Homo sapiens: one gene and its partners. The protein of the gene in region 1 purifies or fractionates together with the protein of each later gene. This does not show direct contact. Each region holds a gene or a part of one and is shown in the gene's direction. Other genes may lie near its edges.

The links.
Region 2: the proteins of ICMT (region 1) and GCA purify together in Homo sapiens (affinity purification with mass spectrometry; 2 studies listed by BioGRID and IntAct, with this or other methods). This does not show direct contact.
Region 3: the proteins of ICMT (region 1) and OXSR1 purify together in Homo sapiens (affinity purification with mass spectrometry; 2 studies listed by BioGRID and IntAct, with this or other methods). This does not show direct contact.

The regions. Positions count from the first base shown.
Region 1 is NC_000001.11:6,220,692-6,225,996, reverse strand, and holds the end of ICMT (protein-S-isoprenylcysteine O-methyltransferase), read left to right. Parts: intron 1-734; coding exon 735-917; 3' UTR 918-4,804; downstream 4,805-5,305. UniProt on the Homo sapiens protein: Catalyzes the post-translational methylation of isoprenylated C-terminal cysteine residues.
Region 2 is NC_000002.12:162,354,099-162,361,131, forward strand, and holds part of GCA (grancalcin), read left to right. Parts: intron 1-2,339; coding exon 2,340-2,383; intron 2,384-2,659; coding exon 2,660-2,807; intron 2,808-4,945; coding exon 4,946-5,059; intron 5,060-5,395; coding exon 5,396-5,454; intron 5,455-6,118; coding exon 6,119-6,145; 3' UTR 6,146-7,033. UniProt on the Homo sapiens protein: Calcium-binding protein that may play a role in the adhesion of neutrophils to fibronectin. May play a role in the formation of focal adhesions.
Region 3 is NC_000003.12:38,245,504-38,252,536, forward strand, and holds part of OXSR1 (serine/threonine-protein kinase OSR1), read left to right. Parts: intron 1-571; coding exon 572-718; intron 719-2,164; coding exon 2,165-2,229; intron 2,230-4,462; coding exon 4,463-4,515; intron 4,516-5,899; coding exon 5,900-5,968; intron 5,969-6,824; coding exon 6,825-6,889; intron 6,890-7,033. UniProt on the Homo sapiens protein: Effector serine/threonine-protein kinase component of the WNK-SPAK/OSR1 kinase cascade, which is involved in various processes, such as ion transport, response to hypertonic stress and blood pressure.

The DNA.
Region 1 (5,305 bases):
CTTAGTCCCAGCTACTTGGGAGGCTGAGGTGGGAGAATCACTTGAGCCCAAGCAGTTAAGGCTGCAGTGAGCCATGATCACGCCACTGCACTCCACGTGACAGAGTGACAATCTGTCTCGGGGGAAAAAAAAGAGGCAAAGTGGGCACAGCGTGGGGAGGGCAGGAGACTGGGGAAGTGGGCGAAGTGCTGCTCTTCTGGGGTTGGAAACCCAGACTCAGGGGGTGGGGTTCAGTCTCTGGAGCTCTCTGAGCGTGGAGGTAATCTGCTGGAAGGGGCATTTCGGAAGCTGAGTTTTGTGGCACTGTATCTCGTGCTGAAGCAGAGGCTGTGGGTTTAGGAGGCAGAGGCCCAGGCAGCTGTGGTGTAAGCGAATGCATTTGTGGTGGGAGGGTCCTGGGCAGGAAGGCAGCGTGCATGGGACCTCATGTTGGGGAGCTCACACCTGGAGGTGGGGGGCATTGCTGTCACCCCAAGCTGAGGGTTGAAATCCAAGAGGTTGATCTTGTGATTTACAGATCTCTCTCATGTAAGAGGAGCAACAGGAAAGCACGTGAGAAAGGCCTGCAGCACTGAGTGCTCAGGGCTAAGGTGACAGTACTGCTCCCAGAGACCCTGACGGTCTCAGCAGGGCATGGGCACAGAAATCCTCTGGGTATTAGAGACAGACGCCTACCAAAGCACAGGGCGTCATCCCACGGTCACCCTGATGAGCCTGGTGTCTCCCTCTGTTAGGTGATGCTGTGTAACCCCATCTGCGGCGTCAGCTATGCCCTGACAGTGTGGCGATTCTTCCGCGATCGAACAGAAGAAGAAGAAATCTCACTAATTCACTTTTTTGGAGAGGAGTACCTGGAGTATAAGAAGAGGGTGCCCACGGGCCTGCCTTTCATAAAGGGGGTCAAGGTGGACCTGTGACGGGCAGTGGCCCCGGTGACCTTGGGGCCTCCGACCCTGTGCAGCCTGGGACAAAACTGTTTCCGGTTGGCCGCTGCCACATGGATTTTCTTAATCGTTTTATGTCATTAGTCACTCTTCTGGAATGTCACTCAAGACCAAGCGGTCAGAAGGCCTGAGGACCCAAGGCCCCACTGGAGCAGTCTGTCCTTATGCCGAATCAAGGCGGAACATGGGTGAAAGACGAGTAAGGGGCAAATCACAGCAATATTCCACAGCGCCCTCCAGAGTTACCTGGGGAGGACCGAGGCCACACGCCACTGCCCCCGAGGCCAGAGTGTAAGTAAAGGATAACCAGGACTCGCTGGGAGAGATGGACTCTGTCCTCAGCAACACTCCACAGCAGAAAGGGGTAGCAGGTACCCCTTCTTATCAGCGGTAAAAATGCATTTACAACCTTTCATTTAACCGAAAAACACAGACCGCTTTAACCTCTTTATTTCTGTCCCCCACTGCATGAACATCTATACAATTTTAAAAATACTTCCTCATAGGATGCTTTGGCCCTTCATCTATTTAATCATAGCTACATACCTATTTTTTATAAGTAGCAGTACACATTCAAAGGGGTATTCCTAGCTCAATGCTTGGTGTTCTAGTTCAACTTTTATCCTGCAGCAAGTAAGCCTAGATAACTCTACACGATTTGGCTGAGTGGCTTTGTGTGACCGTGGCCCCAGGCCAAGGGGATCATGGCCCTGGCTGGCTTTCCCGGGGGTCTCAGCTCCTGTTGTCAGTGATAGGCGGCTCAAAGGAGCATCAGTTTCTTTTGATCCAAGAAGTGCTTACTGAATGCCTGCCCTGTGCGTGGCCTTAAACATTGAGAAGTGCTGCTCTCCGTTTATTTGGGATTTGATTCTCATTTTACCATAGCTTATATTCTCAATTTCAATGCCAGTCTCAGAACTCTTGTTTTCTGTGTTCTGTTCTCAAAATTACATTGTCCCTCATGTCATTTCAAACTGTTTTCCAAAGGGATTTGAGCATATACAACTACAAATCCAAGCAGATTGACTCTCAAAAATAATCTTAAATACTGCAAATAGTCCCAACTAAGATTCAGTCAGTATGTTTGTTTTGCAAGTTTGGGAGAGTAAGTTGGCTTTGAGTCACACATCGAAGCTTTAAGAGGTGAGACGCTGGCTTCATTCTGGACTAGACAGGAACTTGGCCTCAGCGTGAGATCCTGCCATGCAGTGTTGCGGTGGCACTGAAGAAGTGTGAATGTGAAGGCGGCGTCGGCGCGGGGCCAGAGCACCACTCTGCTGCCCCACCACGCGGCCTGTGAGGAGCCACTAAACCTTTCCGTGCCTAGACCTCCCCATCTGTGGAATGGGGTCAATACCACCTACCTCACAGGGGTGTTGTGAGGACTGAGAAGAACAATGTCAAATGTTTTTAATACTCAGATGTGGGAGCGACATCAATGAAATCTGTACTGTATGAAAGCTACACAAAAATGGGCAGACATTTGGTTAATTGTGCCAGATACCTAAAATGTATGTTCAGAAAAGCATTTTATCAACTCAGAAATATGACTTATTTCTAGATTTCATGGCTTAATGAATTTTTTCATTGTTATATATACCAAAGAGGCTTACGGGTTCATTGATTGGTTTGAAAACCAGACAGACGGCCGGGCGCGGTGGCTCACGCCTGTAATCCCAGCAATTTGGGAGGCCAAGGCGGGTGGATCATGAGGTCAGGCGTTCGAGACCAGCCTGGCCAACATGATAAAACCCCGTCTCTACTAAAAATACAAAAAAATAGCTGGGCGTGCTGGCGGGTGCCTGTAATCCCAGCTACTCAGGAGGCTGAGACAGGAGAATCCTTTGAACCCAGGAGGCGGAGGTTGCAGTGAGTTGAGATCGGGCCTTTGCACTTCAGTCTGGGCAACAGGGCGAGACTCCATCTCAAAAAACAACAACAACAACAAAAAAAACCGGACGGACTTGCCCATCGGCCCTCACGACACGCGTGCAGTGGGACTCTAGCCAAGGCGGTGGCCGAGCCATCATTACAATTTTTCTGGAGTAAAGGATCCACGGTGGGACATCAACTGGCACTTACTCTGTTTAGGAACTTGAGTTGAATCATTTCTAAACTTGTCCTTTAGACCACGCCTAGGGCAGCAAATTCCACTTCCTAGAACTGCAAACCGGGAGAGGATGTAGTTAGATTCTGGCATCCTGCCCCGGCTCTTTGAGGGAAAAGTTCTTTCCCCTGCTCTAAGTAGGGCGGGCCCAGCCTCCATTCCCATTGGGAGCCATGAAGTTGTCTTGTTGATAGGTCTAGGGCAGCTGTTGGCAGCTGCTGGCCTTGTGGATGGTAAGCTGACTGTGTTGGCATTTAATGCCATCCTCCATCTGCCAGAGGCCCAGGAAGCCCACCTTCACACCAGGCCCACCAGCTGGAAGGAGCCCAGGAGGCAGGTCTTAGGGTTTCATGGTGAAATGCTGTCTGACACCAGGGAAAACTTGACGTACTCTGCTTTGGAGAGGAATTCCAGGGGTAGGGATGGTGGGAGAACATTCCCACCCTGTTTATAATCCCAGAGCAGAAGTCAGCAATTACTTAGGGATAAAAGATGAACTCCATTTTTTTTATTTTCTTAAGACAGTCTTGCTCTGTGGCCCAGGCTGGAGGCTGGAGTGCAGTGGCACCATTTCGGCTCACCGCAACCTCTGCCTCCCGGGTTCAAGCGATTCTCCTGCCTCAGCCTCCTGAGTAGCTGGGATTACAGGCTTGGGCCACCATGCCCAGCTAATTTTTTTGTATTTTTAGTAGAGACGGGGTTTCACCATGATGGCCAGGCTGGTCTCGAACTCCTGACCTCAAGTGATCCACGCGCCTCGGCCTCCCAAAGTGCTGGGATTACAGGCGTGAGCCACCACGCCCAGCCAAGATGAACTCCTTAAGGACAGGATTTGGTAAGTGATTGACTTCTTTTTAGTTCCATGATCTTGAGATTATTTTTAGCTTTATAAATTTAGCAGTGGCAGGGCCCGTGGAGAATCAGGTTAATGAGGTAAAGGCTTTCTGGGTATTTGCTGCCAAGGCCACATCACCAATTTTCTCGATTTAAAAAACTGTCAAGAGATTTATTTTTCCATTGCAGGTTTTAAAGTGGAGATTCTGAAGTGGAAAATAGGTACTGTCAGAACAAAGCTACCTGGAAACAGCATAGAGTGAAGCCTTTCGTGAGGGCTTGCAGGCCGCTGCTGAGTGGCAGTTTACAGAAGAGGTCGCGGGGTGAGCCTCTTAGCAGGACAGAAAACAAGGCAGCAGCGCACCTGCCACCCCTTCACGAGCTGCTCCTTGAGCCTAAAAAGTAGGCTTTATTCATCCCTTCTGTTCATTTACCAACCTGGGGGATTGATACGACCGGGGAAAATGTTCCTAAACCAGGAAGCTGCGTTAGCCGATCAGGCTTTGTAAGATCTCGCCAACAGCTAGCTGCTTAGGAGTACCCCCACGATACGCACAGCACACCACTGTCCCTTCACTGCACTTTCTTCCTGCCTTAGGTAGTTGGGCTTGCCCACCCTAGTTTGCTTTTGTAGTGGTTTGGCAAGGTTAGAAGGCCTCGGCCTCTCTGTCATGCTGGGAAGTGCCTACTCTCTGGGCCACTGCTGCAGAGGCCGTGGCACTTGTCATGGGTTTGGAAGACCCAGCCATCTGCAGCAGAGGCAGCCTATCCCATTGCAAGGAGAGGAACTGAACGGAGTAATTATTCTACTCTTCTTTTTACATAAATGTTTATTTAAATATTCTAAATTGGATTTTCTTTCACAGATACTGATTATTCTTTCCAGTTCTTAAATAAAACTGCACTTGATTTCACTCAACCACAGTGTGATTGTCTGGGATGTGAAACTCTGAGGTCACTCTTGGGTAAGAAGCGTCTTAAGCCTTTAGCCTCAAACGACGTGTGTTTGGCCTCCTCAATTTCTTTCTGAATTCCTACCTCTAACCAGTTGTAATGATAATTCCTTTTGCCCTGCAGGCCACCACATAGGTTTGTAAGGCCTTGGAACAGGAGCCTCAGTGCCCCTGAAGTAGCAGGTGCAGGGACAGTGGACGTCAATGTGAGTGATGTGTTATGTGTTGAATGTGCTGCCATGTTAGCACGTAGACCCATTTGCTGTTAATCACTGAATCAAGCTGAATATTTGCTTAAATGTGACTATCTGGGCATCATTTTGCCACAAAAACTTGTAAAATTTTACGTCACGTGGGTTACTTTTTAAAAAGCATTTATTAAGCTCCTCTAAATGAAAAGGATACTGTGGAGAAATGGAAAACTGCTGGGAAAAAACTACTAGAAAAAAGGTTGCTGCCACCCAGTG
Region 2 (7,033 bases), on another chromosome or scaffold:
TTGTTTTTTCTCCTCATTTTGCTTGTTTTGGTTGTCTTTCATGTTAGGTGCTTTTCTCAGTTATCTGATGATACTGCTTTGCTCTTATTTTAACTAAATTGCTGATTAGAAGCCCTGAGATCATGGTTAGGCATTGATTGTGGGCTTCACTGTATGGTGATTTGGCTGGGCAGTTTTGTCTTGGAACTCTGGGTGTCAGTATCTTTAGGGATTCCCTTTTGGACTGGGTTTTCAGTTGACCTTCTGCCTGGAAAGGAGAGGTGGACTCAGAAGGGTTCTCAAATCTTTTGTAAATTGTCCTTTAATTGCCTTGCTTTTAGAAGATAGCCCTGTCTCAGCTCTGGTATCTTACATTTCAGAGACTCCTCCAGAGAATAAAATTCCAGATTTCTGCTGGGTTGGAAGTAGGTGTAGCATCCATCCAACTGAACCGAGGCAGGGAGGGGATATGAGGCTTAGAATGCTCCTTAGGTAGACATTCAGCCAATTCTTCTGTTTTTATCTCCACTTTCACACCCACTTTCAGAAGTACTGCCAATTCTTTGGCATTTGGGGTCTTCTCCAAGGGTTGCTTCTCAGCTTTTCTCATTACAAGTTCAGGAATCCATTTTCTCAGATCTAGGTTGGTTAACTCACATCCATCAGCTCTTCAACTTGCAAAATTTTGTTACTTTGTTTCCTGTCTAATTCTCTTTTTCTCTAAAGTTTTATGCCTTAAATCAGTTTACTCTCCATTCTAATGGGCTATGGGGAGGAAGTGAAAAATCTGTCAACTTTCCTGAAAAGTCTGTCTCTCCACTCTTTGTCCTAAATATTTCTTCTTATACATACACATTCCTATTCTGAGATTGAAGATCTGCTCATTTGCTGATTCAGTTTTAGCGATCTATTATCATTAATTCGGATTCTCCCACTTTATGAATGTGTGCCAAGTTAATTGTAAAGCAAAATAGATATTATTTACTTGCCCAAAAGAGGAAATACCATTCCAGAAATTTCTCATGTAATCCCCTCACTCTGACAGTTGTATAGCCTTAGCTTTGTAAACGTGGGGAACTGCCTTTCTGGGTCCCAGTTTCTTCCTTTTTTACAATTGGAACTATTATACGTTTAGCATGTTTATGTGAAATCATGTAACACACGCCACCTTACTCATGCTAAGAACACATTGAGTATCTATTGAGTTGTCAATTTGAAAATACTACAACCAACAATTCTAACATTGATACTATATTAAACATTTAAAGAAAATCAGCAATTTTAACTCTTGGAATGTCTTATAATTTTTTCTTTAGTGGGTCTAAAATTTAGCTGAAATAATTTTCTGCTTTTATAAAATGTTAAGATGTTATGGATAAAATAATTTTGAAAATTTTCATTCATTCATATTAACAAGCTGCTATTAAGCACTTTGTAAATTTAAACTGTACTAACGTGATGTTTTCTTTATCAGGGCATGAAATTAGTCTTGAGATATGTCAGCATACAAATTGAATGTAATTGGATTAGAAAAATTAGAAAAGGATTAGAAAAATTGAATTTTATCAATAGGTCATCAGTTGTAGTTCTATAAATATGAAAGTGTTAATATTTCAAATCACCCCTGGTTTTAAGATAGCTTGTATTGATTTTTTCTTCCTTTTTTCTCCCCCCAACCCCCGAGAAAAACCAGTTGCTTCAATTCAGATGCTCATTTTTTCTTACTTGGTCTATTACAATAAATTACCAATGGACTTACCTATTTCCAATATCATCTCACTTTATATTTTATTCATTGTAAACTAAGTTTCTAAAATGGAAATTTTAGAATTTCCCTTCTGCTTCTGAAAACACTTCAGTGGCTTTTCATTGGCCCAAACTTTTTGGGGGTAGTATTCAAAAGTTTCATGATTTGGCCCTCATTTGCCTTTCTGATGTCATCATATGTCACTCTCTCCCATATACTTTAATGCAAGTTTTGTGATCTCTGAGTACATGTCAAACTTCTACTTTAACTCCACTTGTCATTTGTGTTATGAAGACTGGAAGCCTTCCTTTTCCCCAGGCTTGGGTGAAGCCAAGTGCTTTACATACCTGGAATGTCTTTGTCACAGTAATTTTCAGTTAGTTTGTAATTGCTCATTTAATTAACTTAGTCCCCTCACTAGATGTGAGTACTTTGAAGGCAGTAATTTTTTTTAAACAATGGGTGCTTAACATTCAATAATAGCTTGTTGATTGTGGTGATTTTATATATTTTGGCAGTTTTTTAATGTTTTATTTTGAAACTGGAGATTGTCATAATTTTACATAGATAAAGTTGGGCATACTCTAATTTAAATATTGAATATGTTTTACAGCCTTCAGTTTGGAAACCTGCAGAATTATGATTGCCATGTTGGATGTATCCTTGAATAGAAATAGAAAATACTAGAATAAAGAGTAATTGCTTTCTGACTATCAAGCCAGTGGTTAGATTTCAGTGCCTGTAGTAAACTAGTGAATTTAAAAATACTTTGTAAGATCCTGTTTAAATTCTAGGCTTTCTAGTTTTTATGCAGAAGTCTGTTCATATAATGAGTTTGGCTAAGTCTACAGAAGCATACTCATGTTTTAGTCAATGATTTAGAGTCAGATAAACTCAGGTATCAGAATTTATTTTTGTTAATAAAACTATCAGAGAGATCACACAGGAAAAATGGGATTTAATGCATTCAAAGAGCTATGGGCAGCTCTTAATGCCTGGAAGGAAAACTTCATGACTGTTGATCAAGATGGAAGTGGCACAGTAGAACATCATGAGTTGCGTCAAGCCATTGGTCTTATGGGTAAGAACATTAACATTCTTTAGAATCTATAAAGCTAATCTTTGTTCTTTGATTAGATGAACTTAATTGCTTCAATTTACTAACTAATAAAGGGATGTATTTTTTTGCCAGCAAGTTCCTTTGTTTGTTTTCAAGGTTGTAGGTAAATTCTGACCAAAGACCTCAACAAAACCATTTTAATTATGATTTTTTTCAAAAGATGATCTTCCATACATGCATACATTCTGAATTTCTTCTGTTGTGTTTAAATTTATTTCTTTGTTAGTACTTACCAGTTAGATTGTATTCTTTTATAACTTGGCAGGATATCTAATTGGGAGCCAAAGCTTGCCTCAGTCAGTCAAAAGTCTGTACAAAATAGGTTTTCAGTGGTAGAAACCATGTTTTTGTCTTTTTTTTCTTAGATAGTGCAGAACACATAGCAGGTGCCAAAATACATCAGGATGGAAAGGTTGCATTTTAGAGTAATTTAGAAGTATATAACTTTATTCTTATACCTCTGATAAGCTGATGTTCCTAGTGTACTTTTAAAATGGATAACATACAATGGTGTTTAATTTGCTTAAACTTAATGCAGTTTTAAGTAGCTTTATGAATTGTTCTTATGCTTGTGATTTACACTCTTCTAAACAAAATCTATTTGTATGAAAATTAATTTTTTGGAAGTTAAAATCTGAACCCAATGGAAGTGGGCTTATCTCAAATTGCAATTTAAATAAGTCAAATTAGTGATTTGTTTGGTTTTGTTTTATAAATAGACATTTTAATTTAGTAGTAGGGACAGTCCAGCCCATATAAACATATGTAGTTCAATTATAGATCCTTAATACCTAATGGATTAAACCTGGACCTTAATTCAGCCTAATGTTGGGAAATTAATGTAATCTTTGGCAGAAAAGAAAACCTCCAGAGTTCCCGTTAGGCAGTGGAATGTAAAAAGGGTATTCTGGATTATCCAAATTTAAGATCTTCATGTATATTTTAAAATATTCAAATTATTTTTCTGAGAATACTATGGGAAAATCTAGGAATTTTATCAGTACCACATTTAGCTCATAACTCTCTAATATGAAGTTCAAAATATATTTGCATATAATTACATTAGTTTGCATGTTTTACTGCTTCTTTCAATTTATACCTTTCCCACATTACATTCTATTATAGCTGCATGTATAATTTTCTCCTGTTACATTTATTTTGGTTGTTTTCACCTTTGAATTGATTAGTGTCATTTGTTCAAGTCTACAAATCCAGTAATGTATGGGCAATAATACTGGGCTACCATTCTTCTTAGTAAAATGTATACATCTCATTAAATGCATAGGACCATCTATAAGGGTACAGCAAGTAGAATATATTAATTTATGTTTTTATTCAGTTGTATTCGTTTTAAATTTTAGATTTTATGTATTTTTTAAAATAGGAGTAATCAAACAATAATACATGTATAGAATTTAAAATTAATTTAAACATACTGGGAGTGAATGATCAAAAACTTCTTTCTCATTGATATAAGTAAAAATCAAAGATTTTGGACATCACAGGACTACTGAACAAAGAACCAAGGAAATCAGTGAAATAGCGAGAAAGCTGTTATTATTATTACAGTGTATGAAGAAACACTAAGAATTCCAGGACAAAAAAGAATGTTTTTCTGTTTTTTTCCCCTGTAGAGTAATCATGTTGATCCTCAAATTTCTCTTAGTTATAAAAGATACTTGCAAGTAATATGTTCAGTGGGAAATATCATTTGAATAACAAAGATCATTAGTAATCTTTGCATTTATATTCTTTAAGAACTATACAAAGTTACATACTTGAAATATTGAAGCATTAAAACCCATGAAATTAGACATTATTTCAAAATAACAATATATGATAAATTCATAAGAAGAGAATTATTTTCTTTTCCTTAGCTTTGACTTTATTACAAAGTTAGAATTGTGATATTTATATACCGATTAACAGGATTAACAGTGAAGCCTTTGTCTGATGAATTTCAATATTCATGTGTTTTGTTTCTAATTATATTTTTGTGGAATGAATTTTGAAAGTTATTTTATGACTTAATGAGAAAGCAATCTTGCAGTGTTCTTATGTTATTTACATTTAGAAGTTTTAATTTATCTCTTTTTTAGGTTATAGGTTGAGTCCTCAAACATTAACTACTATTGTTAAACGTTATAGCAAGAATGGCAGAATTTTCTTTGATGATTATGTTGCTTGCTGTGTGAAGCTTCGAGCATTGACAGGTATTGACTATTTAAAACTAAGTGCACAGTGTTATGTAGCTATTTTTCTTGAATAATGTGTCTCATTTCCTCCAGCAAGTTTATAATAATATGTGTTTTCTCCCTTTATTCACTGTTAAATCTAATTAGTTTAAAGGCTTCAAATATTAAGGAATATAAATGATAAAAACGTTATGTTATTTTTGGAAGTTTTTCTCATATCTCTGTTGCCAGGGCTATTCAATCACTTAATATTTAATTGAATATGAAATTATTCTTTTTGTGTACCTGGGTGCACTAAATATTTGAAACTATGTATTTTAAATTACAATAAAAAAGTAATTTCTTTGTTTAAAGATTTCTTTAGGAAAAGAGACCACTTGCAACAAGGGTCTGCGAATTTCATATATGACGATGTGAGTATCCTGCTTTTGATATTTATACTGCATTCTAGATAGTTCTCAGTTAGTAAAAAAATTTAAGTGATCCCAAGTACCAGTACTGGAAATAATATATTTGGTATGCCACATACTTTTCCATATTTTTCAGTGTAACACAAATATAAGATTAATATTGGTATAGGTGCCAAACAATTTGACTTCATGTTAAATTGTAAATATGCTTTTCAATTTTTATGACAGGTTTTTTGAATTAAAAAAAAAATGATCTTTCAAATCACTTTTAAGGGCCAAAACCACCATTATTTTTAAAAAGGGTAGTTTACTGTAGTGATATTTTTTCTCAGGGAGGGAAAAATTTTAATCCGTGACGGATTATGAAGCTGTTCATTTCTCATTTCAAATGGTTACTATTAACCTGATATTCAGGGTTTTTTAAAATTCAAGGTATAAGACAGTTATATTTACCTGTGCTTTAATGTTTCAGGGTTTTTGTTTTGTTTTTCTTATATTTACTGATGGAAGTTATGGGGTCAACATTACTGATATTTATTGGCTTGAATTATAAGCCTTGGAAACAAACTTTTCTCTCTTAAGAAAATGCTCTTATGGAATATAATTAGTCAAAAATAATTAAAAACCATTTTATTCTTAATAGATAATAATTTCACTTATGTATTAGTTTTTGCAGGGCACTATGGCAATTTGAATGCTTAGAATTTTAAACCTGAAGAGACACTGTGAATTCTTTTGTTTGGAAGAAGTGAACTGGACTACTTTAAAACTTTTAAGGGTTTTCTATGTTCTTCCTACCTGTTAAACCTCTTCCCTTTCTGTGTGTTTTTATTTTAGCAGATAGTTCAAAGCAATAAAAGATTTCTTTTTTAATTTGAGGTATTACTGCTTTTGGAAAAGTTATTTTATAAATATGTGCATATTGTCATAAAATATTGTATGATTAATTGATTTAAATAATGCTTAGCCTTAATTTTAGATAATGTAAATTTAGAGGAATGTACTTTACAAGATAGATTGTATAAGAAGCCAAATAATGAAAGCCTAGAAAAAACTAATTTATACTTATCTGAAGGTTACAAATTAGACTTTTAAATTTTCTTTGTAGTTGGTGGTGTTTGAGGGTTGGCTAGAAATGAAAGCCTGGATTTTGTGCCATGTTTGTAATATAGTTTGTTCCTTGATCAAATAATCAGAGAAAAGAAACTTAAAGATCTTTGTCTGTGAAGAAGAAAATTATCTCCCTAGTTCAATCTGTAGTGAAATAAGACTACAGAAGGCATTGTTTTTTCCTTTTTTATTTTTTGTATTATATATTTTTCTTAAATATGTTTTATTGTCTTCTCTAAGCAAAAAGTTCTTAATAAACATAGTATTTCTCTCTGCGTCCTATTTCATTAGTGAAGACATAGTTCACCTAAAATGGCATCCTGCTCTGAATCTAGACTTTTTAGAAATGGCATATGTTTTTGATGATATGTCAACATTCAAAATTGTCCTAATTAAATTGTTGTTTAAATGTAATGTCAACTCTTTATAAACTTAAAAATAAACAAGTAATTAACCACTCTAATTGTTCAGA
Region 3 (7,033 bases), on another chromosome or scaffold:
TAGCTTCTGTAATTTTGTATTACATACTTAAATCTGTATTTTGGAGGTGCTGTTTTGCTGGGCAAAGGAATGGAATAGATTTTGTTAAAGATAAATATAATGCAAACTGAAGACAGACACAAAAGACTATATATTATATGATTCCATTTATATGAAATATCCAGAAAAGCAAATTTATAGAAATTAGGATCAGTTGTTGCCTATGGCTGGGTGTGGAAGCAGGAACTAACTATAGGCATGAGAGGACTTTTTGGGGGTGATGGAAGTGTTCTAAAACGATTGTGGTGATGGTTGCACAATTCTATATATGGTACAAAAATCGCCAAATTGTACAGTTACAGTGGGTAAATGTAGAGAAATATAAATTATACCTCACAGAGTTGTTAAAAGTTTAAAAGCCTAGAAATATTTGACTTCCGTTTGGAATAGATATATTCGGAGTAGACACAAAACCTGTACACTACCCAAAAACTACTTTGAAAATATCACCCTGAAAGGCTGAACTTGCTGTCAGCAGACCTGCCTCCCTTTCCACACAACTTAAGCAACACTGTGTGTGTTTTTGTTACAGCTCTTTCCAACAACTGATCCTGTGGGTACTTTGCTCCAAGTTCCAGAACAGATCTCTGCTCATCTACCTCAGCCAGCTGGGCAGATTGCTACACAGCCAACTCAAGTCTCTCTCCCACCCACCGCAGAGCCAGCAAAAACAGCTCAGGTAAAGCCGGGGATATGGTTTCATGGTCACTCCTTTGGATAGATGAAAAGAGCAGATATTAACGTGGAATATAACCTAATGTAATCAGGTTAATGTCTTGGTAGATTTTGAAACAAGTTAGAAATTCTGTCTTCACATTTTTAAGCATGTACAGGTAAGAGAATTTTACAAGGATCACATGCAGGTTTTTAAGCAACAGAATAAGTTAATGATGGAAATATTTCAAACATCAAAAATTTTGGGCTAATTTCTTGTCAGCTTTGTATTAGATAATTACATTTAACTTCAGAATGCAGCTCATGAAGTTCAACAGAGACTAGGAGAATCGATGGCTGTACTGTTTTTGTTGTTGTTGTTCACTCAGGCTTATACTTTTTATTAATACTCTTTGTTTTCTGTGGTTTTTCTCTATTACTCTTTTTAAGTTATTTGTCAATTTTGTGAGGGTTGGTTTGTTAAGTCCGGGTATTATAATCTGTAAATCATTTATCCAGGTGCACACAAACTTTATTAAATCATACTTCATTGAGAGCAGCCAAGTGAATGAAGGCCCCGTAGTGGGCTGCTACATGCTGTGTAACTCCTTCTCTCCCTTCAATAAACCTCAGACACTGCATACAACATGTGGCCCTATGGTACATGGTTAAAGTAAGACTTTCAACGTCCATTTATTAAATATTAGAAGTTCCATTTTCTTGTCTAACGTTTTAGATGAAAAGAAATATAAATTAAAGGTCTGATTTTTTTTTTTTTCTTTTGCACCCCAGTAGATCATCTCGTGTTCTGCCTTTGGAGATCACTGCTTTGAGCATTTCCAATTAGTCATGGCACTTACTTCATTTAACTTTGCATCCCTCAAGCTTTCCATTTCTGCTTGGCATATGGGAAAAGATACAGTTGTCTTAGGAAAATTGATGGAAAAATTAGATTCATTTTATAAACAACTTAAATCGAATGCATGTCCTCCCATAAGCAAGCGCTGTACAATTTTCAGAGAGGATTAGTTTAGCCATAAAAAGACTGGAACCTATGTATGGGTTGGATGGATTTCTGAAGGGCAGCTGGTTCAGGGTCTACCTTTTGTACTGCCATATGGTGCACTGGCAGATTTTTTAAAAATGAGAAACCTAGCTTTGTGTTTTTCAGTCTTGTAGAGGGGAACAGGGGTCTCAGAAATATAAAATGTAAATGTGGCTATATGTGAAATTTCATCTGGGCTTGAGAGTTTTCTTTCTCATTGTGTTGGACTTAAACTGACATTCAGCTTTTGTTGCTGCCTTGGAGTGCATGTCCTCCTCCAGCAGGGAATGTCCTGGGGATTAGTATGACCTCAGCTGGAGATGAAGAAAATTGCTGCCAAGTAAATGATTCCTCTGCCAGTGACCATTAGTCACCTCCCCACTTAATGTTTCAGGCAATGACTGTATACCTTTCAATGCTTTTTAGGCTTTGTCTTCAGGATCAGGTTCACAAGAAACCAAGATCCCAATCAGTCTAGTACTAAGATTAAGGTAAGTAGACATTTTTTGTTTTGTTTTCTTTTGTTTTCTGAATATTCTGCATGTGCTGTAATAGTCTGTGCCTGAGAGTAACTGGATAGGATTGTATGTCCTCCAGCATCAAGCTCTGTTTGCTTGGTGGTGTATTATTTTTCCCCAGAAATAATAGCAACAGTGTGAGGACCTGCATGTTAGCAGGTGTTGTGACTAACTGATGCACATGTTCTCTCAGTTGTTTCTGTGCTAATTGGTGATGAGTTTGTGTATTTACAGTGTAGCTAGTTTGGGTTAGGAGGTGTAGCCTGTAATTGAGGAACAGTTTTTAGGGGAGCAGCACTAACTGGCTTATCTGAAGATCAGTCTTATAATTGTGACGAGGTAAACTCTGAGATCAACTAACCCAAGAGGGGAGCACTTTTTGATTGTGGTAGATCAAATAAAGGCCTTGTTTTTAGAAGGTTAAAAGGAAACTTCTAAATGTTTTTGTAGTCTGTTTCTGTTTTGCAGCAAGTACCCTAAATTGGTGGTTCTTGGTGGGAACATATAGAGAGGTCCTGACAGATTGCTCAGCAGGAAGTGCCATAGGTAGCAGTCTGTTCATTTTAACTCCCTGCCCCGCCCCCCCCGCCCCTAGCACTAGTAGCTGGATTCAAATTCCAGAGCTTTCTTGTCAGAATCACTATGGCTGTTGTATTGCTCTAGTTAGGTCTCTTTCTACTCATAAATGCATTTGAAAAAAAATTAGTATTAAAGTATCACTTGAGGCAACTCAGGCCTTTTAAAACTATTACTAACATTTTAAAAAAGAGTTCCACTGAATTACCATTAACTCATTCCCCTTGCACATATAAATTCCTAGTCATCTTTCTGTAAGGTCCTAATTGGAGATAGAGGCAGCAAGAGCTATTTAAGAGAATGTGGTAAGGAGAATCTCATTGCTCCTTGCCACTAGGAGCAATGCATTTATGCCATAAATGTGAAAAACATATTTGGTTACCTTTCCTTTACAGAAGCCTACTTAGTATACCTGGTCTCATCTCAAAAATTCTGAGTTACTAGGATGTCTTGACAACTTCATGCTGTTTTAAATCTACATAAAGAATAACACTTTAAGAAAATTATTGTGAAATGTATTAAGCACAGACTATGTATAGCACTCTTCGGTACTGTGGAAAGGTGGATACTGAGAAAAGAGAAAATTAAATGACTCCCTTAATAATCAAGTCTAGGTTGGAAGTTGATTTGAACTATGTACTTACACAGCTAAAAGCAAATTTCAGGTAGTATATACATGCAGAAGTATAAGTTTGTATGTACCTGTGTAGAAAGAACGCAATGCAAGGGAAAATCATTTGGGGCATGTTATATTTGAGATGGGTAGTTCTATTTTAAGCACAATTTCAGTAACATCCTCAAGTATATTATTCATCAAATAGAAGTAAACCCTCTCCATTATTTATATAAAATAGATTTGAGTCCTAAGTGAGCAGGCATATCTGCCCTTAGATATAGTGTTCTCATTTCTCTGTCTTTAAACAAAACCTCCAGGGATCCTGCTTAATCTCAGTGCATGGTGTGATCATCACTGTAACTGTACCTCACCAGTCAGGTTTGAATTTCTGGAGTCATATAGTAACTCTGCTACCAGTATGGACCCAATTCCTTTCCCTATCCTCTCTGCCTACCTAAATCCTGCATATCTGTTAAGTCCTATATAAAAACTACCTCTAAAATTTTTCCTTATTATCCCCATCTCTCATATATTCTTTGAATTCCTATGGAATTTGAGGGAGTATCATGTATTTCATTTTATGAGTCTGCCAAGACTGATCACCAGAGGTAGGCAATGAATTGTGGGCATGTAGGAGTGGGGATAAGGATGAAAAAGGCATCCTGTATCATTTTAATCACACCTCCCTGTGCTCATACAATTTTCCTCTTAGTTTTATATGTTCTTGGTGTGGGAATAAGGATGGGAGTGGGCATATAAGAATCTACTCAAAGGCATGAAATTTTTATATTGATCAGTAAGGGACATAGATTCAAAGGGTTGTAGGACAATTAGATGGTCATTCCGAATTGGTTTTGCTCTGAGCTCTGCAGTGTGAACATATCTGAATACATCATATGATCTATGGGAACAAAACAGACTTTCTTGAGGCACAGCTTTCTTAATATATGTTGGCAGAATCTCTTTGCATAAATTTAGAAATTCTTATTTTATGCATTCTGCTTTCTTTCATAGGAATTCCAAAAAAGAACTAAATGATATTCGATTTGAATTTACTCCTGGGAGAGGTGAGGCATCAAATGGATTGAAAACAAAATAGCTTCCAATTTGTGATTCAATGAAATGTGTTGTGAAGTTTCTGTCCTTTGTGAAGTTTTGCTTTTAAAGGATAATAAAAATTTTCCTGGTTTTGGCGAGTATATGAGTGAGATAAAAATGCAGTTCGTTGACTACTAAACACATTTAGAAAACCTTGTATAATAATACAAACAGTAATAAATATATGATAGCTCTTTACAGCTTACTATAGGCCAGGCATTGTCTTAAGCGTTATCTTATTAAATTCTCACAGCAGTCTACTAAGGAAAAATTATTATCCCCATAGTATCGATGATGAAATCAAGACTTAAAGGCAAAGTAACTTGTTCAAGGTCACACAGCTGGAAAGAGGTATAGCTGGAATTCAAACCAGATCTGTCAGAATCCAAAGTTCATTCTTTATACATGGTTGTTCTCCATGATGGTAAAGAAACAAGGTCTGCAGTCTCCTCTCTCCTCAGACAGAAGCTGAGGTCTGTCATGTACTGTTTCTGGCTGTTGAACTTCACCTTGAACAAGGTGTGTTTTGTTTCTTGCCTTTATTACTCAGTGTTCTAATTTGGGGAGTAGCCAGCAAGTATCTGTTCTGTGTATCATGCTTATTCTTCTTGCTGTCTCACTATCATGAGCAACTAACCACTAAAGAGAAAAGATGCAGGTGTACAGAGGTGTCACCTGTTTTACTTTTTAAACACCAGGCAACATCACATTTTCAGGAATTAATTCAAATTGCTGGTTGCCTGTGTGAATGTGTGGACACTGTCTCCACCGCAGTCCTCCTGTTCCCTCTGAGGGGCTCATTTTCAAGCCCTTGGCAACCAATACCACTGAGTTGGTTGAAGATGAGGTTAATTGGGGATATTCTGTCCTCATCTTTTTAGTTTCTGGTTATACCCATTGCTCAGATTGTACCACCTGGAATAACTAGATAAGAAGAAAAGCCCACCAGAATAAAAAAGTAAATGATTTTAGCAAAAAACTTGGAGTATGATTCCCAAAGAGAAGAGACAAAAATTTTTTGAGACAAAAATTGTTGCCTTAGTTTTTGAGAATAAATCATTCTGGTTTTTTAGCCCTAGAGATGTTCAGTATTCAACATCATGTCTCAGATATTTGCTACCTGGTTTATACAGATTCTGCCCTCTAGCTAGATCTGTGAGAATTCCACTTGAGATAATCTCAGTGGTAGGAAAAGTCTTTGTATGGAAGGAAGGCCCTGCCTGCCTTCTTGGTTCTGTGGATTTAGCATCCAGCTTGGGCCTAGCATGGCACACTGACACCCACATGAGCTGTGAGAGTTAACAGTGGCAAGCACGCACAAAAAACAGAGCACTGTCTTCTTTGTCCTTGCAGATACAGCAGAGGGTGTCTCTCAGGAACTCATTTCTGCTGGCCTGGTCGACGGAAGGGATTTAGTAATAGGTAACTCCATTGCGTTCTGCTCATGTGCTCCTGTGTCTCTGTCTGTATACTTAGTACATAGAAAAGCAGGTTTTTTATTCCACTGAGTAGGTCTGATGGTTCTTGAAATGGTTCTTGGCTTTCCTGAAATTATAGGTAATGGGACAGTTCCTTACACACACACAAAATTTCACCTCTGAGTTTGCTTTGTGACCTCCAATGATGGTAAGTGAAAGCACACCCAAGGTCTTTAGGAGATTAATAGAAATTATGGCAAAAGTCACAAGTTAAAGTAAGCTTGGCCATATCTGATCTGTTTTGGATACCTAATTTTTGTGGCCCAAGTTGAGCAAAAGTCATTAGAGATTTAGTACTAGAAAAGCAGGAAGGAAGAGAGAAGGCCCAGTGAGGCCACAGGTCCATGTTACTGAAGGAAAAGACCATGTCCTTAGACACAGTTTTCCGTGAAAAACCAGATAATAAATAGTTTAGGCCTTGCGGGCCATGTACAGTGTCTGTCACTTTTAAACCACTCTTAGCTTGCCGGAGAACAAAAACAGACCACAGGCTGGTTTGTTGACTTCTGGCCTTGGGCTTTCTGATCCATAAATCAGGAAATCATACCTCTTTTACCTGCATGTTTTTCCTAGGTTAATACAACATTTTAAAGAAAGTTAATTTGACAGTGGTTCAAGGTGTACTACTCAGAAATGAGTTTAAAAGACACTTTCATTAGGGGAGTGATTATTTGATCTGTCTGCTTCCATTTTGATTGTACGGAGCATATTCTTAACTACCATTTAAGCTTTTAAAATATGGTTGAAAGTGGATTTATGTAACTTCTCATTCATTACCTTCTCTGTTTGTATGATTACAGTGGCAGCTAATTTGCAGAAAATTGTGGAAGAACCTCAGTCAAATCGATCTGTCACTTTCAAACTGGTACTCATCCCTTCTTCCTTGTGAAAACATCTTGCCTTTTATACACTGGCAGCTTCTCCAGACCAGCTTCTATATCCCCTGAGTGATGAGAATATTAAAATGTGGTGGATTGTGTTCATTTAGCCTCCCCAGTGCCCTGGGCTG